Homo sapiens: one gene and its partner. The protein of the gene in region 1 interacts with the protein of each later gene in a pairwise test. Each region holds a gene or a part of one and is shown in the gene's direction. Other genes may lie near its edges.

Evidence for each region.
Region 2: the proteins of MRPL23 (region 1) and ASB10 interact in a two-hybrid assay, tested with the Homo sapiens proteins (one large-scale study listed by BioGRID and IntAct).

Annotation. Positions count from the first base shown.
Region 1 is NC_000011.10:1,953,603-1,957,292, forward strand, and holds the end of MRPL23 (large ribosomal subunit protein uL23m), read left to right. Parts: intron 1-2,008; coding exon of another isoform or gene 2,009-2,083; exon of another isoform or gene 2,084-2,179; intron 2,180-2,653; coding exon 2,654-2,818; 3' UTR 2,819-2,998; downstream 2,999-3,690.
Region 2 is NC_000007.14:151,184,184-151,188,555, reverse strand, and holds the start of ASB10 (ankyrin repeat and SOCS box protein 10), read left to right. Parts: upstream 1-1,305; 5' UTR 1,306-1,425; coding exon 1,426-1,741; intron 1,742-1,896; coding exon 1,897-2,164; intron 2,165-4,372. UniProt on the Homo sapiens protein: May be a substrate-recognition component of a SCF-like ECS (Elongin-Cullin-SOCS-box protein) E3 ubiquitin-protein ligase complex which mediates the ubiquitination and subsequent proteasomal degradation of target proteins.

The DNA of each region.
Region 1 (3,690 bases):
CTCCTGGGCCTCCCCACTCTGCCCCTGGGGCTGGCCTTACTGGGTGGGGATGGGGTTGTCTTCCGGTGTAAATGGTCCCTGGAGGCCGAGCCGGCGGGCCCTGCCACTAGATGGCAGTCACACGATGGTGGAAACCGCCTCCTGGGCCAGCCGGCCTGTTGTGGGGCTAAGGAGGCAGTTTGTGAAAAAGGCCAAGTTAGCATGGCAGCTTTTCTGAAAAACAGTCACATTTGTTGTTCTAAACAGGGGCCCCCGGAATAATTTGGCCTGATATTTGCTGTGCATGAAATCAGCCAATCCAGGTGGGGAGAGCAGCCGTTGGCCTCATAAAGGCCTCTGTGTGCTCAGTGTCAGTCGGGCCCATCTGTCTTTGTCATGGCATGTGGGTGGACATCCCGTGTGCCGGCACCGCCACGGGCACTTCAGAGGCAGCTACGGTTACAAGTGGCATTCAAGTCATCCGAGCCCTTGCGTTCTTCCTCTGGGCCCCACCTCCCATGAAAACTGAACCCAGCAGCTCCGGGATCCGGTGTCTGCAGCTGCTGCCCGCGTGTTGTTCTCCCTCTGTGAAGTCCAGGCAGCCAGAGACAGGGCAGGGCAACTGGGAGCCTGAAGGGTCCCAGTTGGGCATGGATCCTCCTGTTCCAGAATGAAAATTTGTAACGGGTCCTCACCCCCCTTCCTGAACTCCAGCACATCTTTGCACAGCCTAGAAATGGGCCGTGGCCGTTGGTCCCTGTCTGCCCGCAGAGGGGACTCTCAAGGCCCTTTCCTGTCTCGTGTCTGCTGAGACCTTGCTCAGCGTGTCCCCCTGGGCCCTGCGCCAGGGCTTAGAATCACTGCTAATTGCAAAGCCCAGGGAGGGAGCATTGGAAAGGTAAAATTATCCACGTTATTTGGAGTTGGCCGCTGTGGAAAGGCCCTGTCCCACGTGGCGGGAGTCCCACATTTCTTTCTCCGACAACCTGATAAGCATCTCCTTGGCCCAAAGTCCTGGGAGCTGAAAGCAGCGCCTCAGTGACCCACACAACAAAAAGACCATTGACTGCCCGCTGCCCCGAGGCTTGTGTGGATGCTGAGCAGCGCGGGAATGAAGGGCGCGCAGGAATGAAGGGCGCACGACATGAGAGGCAACTCCAGAACAAACCGCTGCCGCCAGCTGGGCCGAGCTCCGTGCTCGGGGCTCCGGCCTCCAGGTCCAGGCAGGCGGCAGCCCCCAGGGCGCCCTGGGATTCCTGAAGGCAGGGCTGCCTTGTTTACTTGTCATTGGGACATTTTTCTCCATTCCTGTTCTTTACCCCGATCAGCTGTCTCTCTCCTTTTTGGAAGGATCAAGGGCTTTTTTTTTTTAGGTACAAGGTGAACTCTTCTAGAAAGGGGAAGCCCCTGGGAAACCATGCTTGGCATCCCCAAACGGTGTTTGTCTCCTGTAAGAAACGGATTTTCTCTCAGCACCTTTCCCCATTTCTTCCCGAAGCTGTGACAAATGGCCATGTTTGTGCTTTAAACTGTCATTTTGGGTTCCCCTTGCCTCGGAAAACTAGCAGAATCACCTCCATATAGTCAAGGTGAATCTCCCATTCTGGGCAGTCAGCCTCACGTGTAAACGACTGCCCCTTGGTATTTTAAAAGACGCAAAGTTCAGAGCTGTGTAAGGCAATCCTCCTGCAGGCCGGCTACGGCGCACGCAGTGCCACTCTCCCCGCCAGCCCCTGCGCTCTGCGCCAGGGATCAGGGTGCATACACCTCCCTCGCAGGGTGGGATCTGGGCCTGTTTCAGATCATACTTGGCTGCCTGCCCACATCCAGATTTATTTACACACAAAGGGTCTGCAAGAGCCAAGTGTACCTGACTGATTTTACTCACTAAAGGGTTCCAGATTCGGGTGCCATCCTCACTCCTCCTCCCTCTTCTCTTCCCTCTCCTCTGGTCTGCTCTTTCTGCCTCTTAGCTTTGGAGCACTTAGTAATCATTAGCAAGTTAAGATGGCTTCTTGTATTTGCTTAGGTCCCCAAGGAGCAGTATCCCCTCCTTCTCGTGAACCCGAGCCACATGCTGTGGCCTGGGCTGGGGCTTGGCTGACACGGACATATTCTGAACTCTCAGCAGAAGATGTAAGACCAGTTAATTGGCAGAGCCGGTCCTGATTTATCAACTGCCGCACGTGCATGTTTCTTCGTACGTGATGTTCACTTTAATTGCCAGGCTCTGGGCTGGGAGGAGGGGGAGCTTTAATGTGAGTAGAGCCTGAGGCATTTTGGATGGACAGGTTCAGCATGGTACCAGACGTGATTTGTGTCATGTTTTTCCATGCCTTGTTTCTGCCCCCCACCAACCAGGTGGCCCCGTGCTAGTAAATGGGTGCACCCAGGGCGGGGGCAGACACCAGGCCCTAAAGAGACAATGGTGGGGAAAGCGGCCCTGTCCTGGAGCTGTGGCCTCTGCTGCAGCGTGACAGCCGGGGGCCGGTGGCCGTGGGGGTGCTTACATTCCAGGCAGGGACGCTGCCCCAGGAGGCCCAGGGAGGTACCTCTGAGCAGTTGAATCCGGCGCCGGCAGAAAGGGGCTGCCAGAAAGCATGAGGCTCCCCCACAGACCCCTCTGCTGAGGAGTCTTTGCAGCTCTGGCTGGAGCCTTTGTTCTCCCCCTTAGGCCCATGGACAGACCTTCACGTTCCCAGATCTGTTTCCCGAGAAAGACGAGAGCCCTGAAGGCAGCGCTGCCGACGACCTCTACAGCATGCTCGAGGAGGAGAGGCAGCAGAGGCAGAGCAGCGACCCGCGGCGGGGCGGCGTCCCCAGCTGGTTCGGGCTGTGACGGGGTGGCCAGCAGGGACGCGCCCCAGGTGGGCAGCTGTGGCAGAGCAGCGACCCGCGGCGGGGCGGCATCCCCAGCTGGTTCGGGCCGTGACGGGGCGGCCAGCAGGGACGCGCCCCAGGTGGGCAGCTGTGGCAGAGCAGTCCCGACACCTAAATAAAAGTCTTGCTGCAGGAGAAAGAGCCGGAAGCTCTGCTTCCTTCTTCTCTTGGGTCTCTGGGTGCCAGACACGCAGCAGCCACCCCCCAGCTCTGAGCGCCACGTGGCCTGGCTCCGCTTTCCCAGGGTCTGGGCAGTGGGCGCGGCCGGGGTCTGGTCTCTGAGTTGACGGGGAACTGAGGGTGGGCAGACTTGAGACGTGGCCCCATGCTGGGGAGGCGGGTTGGCCAGAGAGGGCCACACACAGGCTCGGAGCTGCATGCCAGGTGGGGAATGAGACACGCAGGTGAAAAGACCCAGAAGATAGTTCTGAGCGCCCACATTCAGAGCCTGAGCCCAGAGGCGTCGGGAGGAATGGAGGGGTCAGCGTGAGCACGGGGCGGCGCCGGGTGAGAGAACGGCCTGGCCTGGACAGAAGTTCTGGGGAGGGGCTGCCAGGGCAGCAGCCCTCAGGGGGCCTGGTGAGGGAACTCCGGCCCGCCTGTGGGTTTCGGTTTGGCACTGTTGGCAGCAAGAACCCGAGAAGGGCCGGGAAGGGATCCGAGGGCAGCAGTGTCTCAGGAGAGCCATGGCGGAGAGGTGCCGTCGGGCGGAGAGGTGCCGTCGGGCACAGGCCCGGGGCTGGGCCTAGGGGACAGGGAGGACCCAGCCTGGAAAGGTGGTTAGGGCAGGGGGCAAGGTGTGGCCAGCAACCACTGCAAAACAGTTCTGTG
Region 2 (4,372 bases), on another chromosome or scaffold:
TCTCATCTTCTTTCTCTCTTTTTTTCCTTTTGATCCACCCGGCCCCCAAACAAAAGTCAGTGCCTGAGTACACAGAGACATTTCTCCTTTCTCACTCTCTAGTGAAGAGACCCCATGTAACCACAGCAGGGGAGAGATGCCACCCAAGGTCATCCAGGGAGATGGGGGGGTTGGCATCAAGGACGAGCATGGGGAGTTTCTGTGGCTTGCCTGTGGGTTACGCTCTGTTACTCAGGCACACGTCTGTCTAAGGGAGCCCCCTGAGGGGTGCCTCACACAGCGAGGGCAATCTGTGTCACTACTGTGAACTCCTCCCTTGGTTTGGGAGTGGGAAGGTGCAGGGCTAACAGATGACATTTGGAAGGGCAGGAAATATTATCTGGCACCCACAGGCCTTCCCAGTGGGATCAGAGCCCAGGCAGCTGGAGGCCGATTTGGTGAACAAGAAAGAGCTCAAGGCCCTGGGTTCCAGTCCTGGCTCTGCAACAAGCTCTCTGCGTGATCTTGGGAAATTCACTTCCCTTTAATGCCGAGATGACGGACTGGGCAGCATGGTCCGGGTGGTCCCTTTCCACCCTGAGGTCATACAGCCCTGGGGTGAAGCTCAGGGTTGGCGGGCTCAGGCCTCACTTGTTCTCCTGCCCCTCCCTAATTCCCCCACCCGGCCTGACTGACAGCTGGGCCAGTCAGGGCTATTTATGGCTTTGCCTGATGTTGTGCTCCCCTGCGCCTCCCATGCTGGGCCCCACCCAGCTCGGGCCCAGCACCCACCTGCCCAGTCCACCAGCAACATCGCTGGGAGTCGTGCTGCTTTGGCTCTCCCAGAACAAGCCATGCCCTGGGGAAAGAACTCCTCTCCCCACTGGGGACACCATCTGGGGTGCCTTCCCTCCGCCCCGGCCTGCCGGATCTGGAGGCCCCACTCCCGCCCAGCCTGGGAGCCCCCTCGGCCATCACCACTGCTCTGCCAAGACATGGCCCTGCAGAATGCCCTCTACACCGGGGACCTGGCAAGGTTGCAGGAGCTGTTCCCCCCGCACAGCACAGCCGACCTGCTGCTGGAGAGCCGGGCCGCAGAGCCTCGCTGGAGCAGCCACCAGAGGGGTGAGGGGCATCTGGGGGTTGCTGAGAACCAGGGGGCTGGGCTGACTGCCTCGGCCACAGAGGTCCTAAGGGCTTGAGTGAAAGGAGAAGCCCCCGGCTGTTTCTCCCCGACCTCAAAGCTTGCCCAATAGCCTACACCTTGGCCCAAGAACACAGTCATGTGGAGCCCAGAATAGCTCCTGCTGGATGCGTGGCCAGGTCAGCCTCGGAGCGTGGGACACAGGGGCCTTCTGTCTGTCTGTATTTCCCTCCTGCTCTCTCTCTCTCTCTCTGCCTTTGGCATATACCTCTCCTCCTCCCCACTCCCCTTTCCCTGCCCACATGCTCATGAGTTGGTCTCCAGAAGAGTGCAAGGGGCAGGGAGAGCCCCTCGATGACAGACACCCCCTCTGTGCCAGGCTGGTGGAGAAGCCCAGCAGAGGGTCTGAGGAGCACCTCAAGTCTGGCCCGGGACCCATCGTCACCCGCACAGCCTCAGGACCTGCCCTTGCCTTCTGGCAGGCAGTGCTGGCTGGGGACGTGGGCTGTGTCTCCCGCATCCTCGCGGACTCCAGTACTGGCCTGGCTCCTGATTCCGTCTTTGATACCAGCGACCCAGAGCGATGGAGGGATTTCCGCTTCAACATCCGTGCTCTGAGTACGGGCCGGGGCACTGGGGGCTCTCAGTGGGAGAGAGGGGAGGCTGCAGATGGAGCTCTGGGCTCCCTCTTCCTGCCTCTGCCCACCTCACCCCATTGGCTGGAAGGTCTCTGCCTTCCCTGGGGATCTGAGGCCCACGTCTCCCCTCCCTAGGACTCTGGTCTCTGACATACGAAGAGGAGCTGACCACCCCACTGCATGTGGCAGCCAGCCGTGGCCACACGGAAGTCCTGCGGCTGCTGCTGAGGCGGCGAGCAAGGCCAGACAGTGCCCCTGGGGGCCGCACCGCCCTGCACGAGGCCTGTGCTGCAGGCCACACTGCCTGTGTTCATGTGCTGCTGGTGGCAGGAGCCGACCCCAACATCGCTGACCAGGATGGGAAACGCCCCCTGCATCTCTGCCGGGGGCCTGGCACCCTTGAGTGAGTGACCCCTCACCCCAACCCCCAGTTCCACTCTGAAGGGAAGCAAAGAGGCCTTCTCAGGGAGGATGGGGGAAAATGTCAGGGACCTGGGACAGAGCAGTCCAGGCTTGGGGCGCGGGTCAGGGTGCAATTACTTCCCAAGCCATCCACCCGTTGACCCCATGAACTTTGGAGTGGCCTGGACTTTGGACAGTTTTCTGGTCTCCCAGGGGTGGAGGGAGGCTGTGGCAGGGGTGCAGTTGCATGGCCCGCATTGGGAAATTGCCTGGCTCCATTATGGGGAGGTGGTGTTGCTTAAAATTTTTGAAAACACTTTCTGAGCTTATCCTATGTTCCAGGCACTGTGCTAAGCACAACAGCAACTAAGTCCCTGAGGCCCTGCCCTCAGGGAGCTTACTGTCCAGTGATCCAGACAGGGAGTAGAGGATGGTGGCCCCAGTGAGGACCTGCCTGGGTCCCTCTGGGTAGGGTCTGGTTTTCCAAGACAGGTCTAGAATCTCCATATTGGTAGGGCACCCTCAGATCATGGGCTCAAGGGACTCTCACTAACTAAACTCCCAAGAAACTGATGAATACACCCAAATGTGCCAATGTATCATTTATTGTAGGGAATAGTCCTTTGCAGTGACATAAATAATTGCAACCCAAGTGTAAGGAACGTTGTAGGATGGGATCCCAATTACAATTTTGTGAACTAACTCTACATCCTATAGAGGCCCTCTCTCTACTGACTGCACACCTGCAGGTCTTGTCTCTTGCCTCTGAAAGGTGCCAAATTATTGACCCTGGGGTTCTCCTTTCATGGACCCTCTCCTTCTTGTTAATCTCATCAGCCTCTAGAGGATTCCACAGGCTTAATCATACTATGGTTGAAGATGTGTTCTTTACTAGCGTGGCCCAGTGGAAACCTAATGTGAGCCATATATGCAATTTACAGTGTTCTAGCAGCCCTATAAAAAAAATGACAAATGGCCGGGCACGGTGGCTCACACCTGTAATCCCAGCACTTTGGGAGGCTGAGGCAGGTGGCTTGCTTGAGGCCAGGAGTTCGAGACCAGCCTGGCCAACATGCCCAAACCTTGTCTCTACTAAAAATACAAAAATTAGCTGGGTGTGGTGGCAGGCGCCTGTAATCCCAGCGACTCGGGAGGCTGAGGCAGGAGAATTGCTTAAACCTGGGAGGTGGAGGTTGCAGTGAGCGGAGATTAGATTGCGCCACTGCACTCCAGCCTGGGAGACAAAGTGAGACTTTGTCTCACAAAAAAAAAAAAAAAAAGACAAATATGTAAAATTAATTTTCAAAATGGTGGTAAAATATACATGAAATTTGCCTTTGTAACCATTTTTTATTTATTTATTTATTTTTTGAGACGGAGTCTTGCTCTGCCGCCCAGGCTGGAGTGCAGTGGTGCGATCTCGGCTCACTGCAAGCTCCGCCTCCCGGGTTCACGCCATCCTCCTGCCTCAGCCTCGCGAGTAGCTGGGACTACAGGCCCCCGCCACCATGCCTGGCTAATTTTTTGTATTTTTAGTAGAGACGCGGTTTCACAGTGTTAGCCAGGATGGTCTCAATCTCCTGACCTCGTGTTCTGCCCGCCTCGGCCTCCCAAAGTGCTGGGATTCCAGGCACGAGCCACCGTGCCCGGCCTTTTGTAACCATTTTTAAGCGTACAGTTCGATGGCATTAAGCACATTCATGTTGTTGTTCAACCATCGCCACCATCCATCTCCAAACTTTCTCATCTTCCCAAACTGAAATTCTAACCCCATCAAACACTAACCACCCACCCCACCCTGTCTCCCAAGCCCCTGGCAATCACTATGTTACTTTCTGTCTCTGAATGTGAACACTCTGGGGACCTCACATAAGTGGAATCATGTGGTATTTGTCCTTTTGTAACTGGCTTATTCCACTTAGCATGATGTCTTCAGACTTCACCCATGTTGTCCCATGTTTCAGAATTTCCTTCCTTTCTTTTTTTTTTTTTTACTCTGTCGCCCAGGCTGGAGTGCAGTGGCGTGATATCGGCTCACTGCAAGCTCCGCCTCCCGGGTTCACGCCATTCTCCCGCCTCAGCCTCCCGAGTAGCTGGAACTACAGGCGCCCACCACCGCACCCGGCTACTTTTTGTATTTTTTAGTAGAGACGGGGTTTCACCGTGTTAGCCAGGATGGTCTCGATCTCCTGACCTTGTGATCCACCCA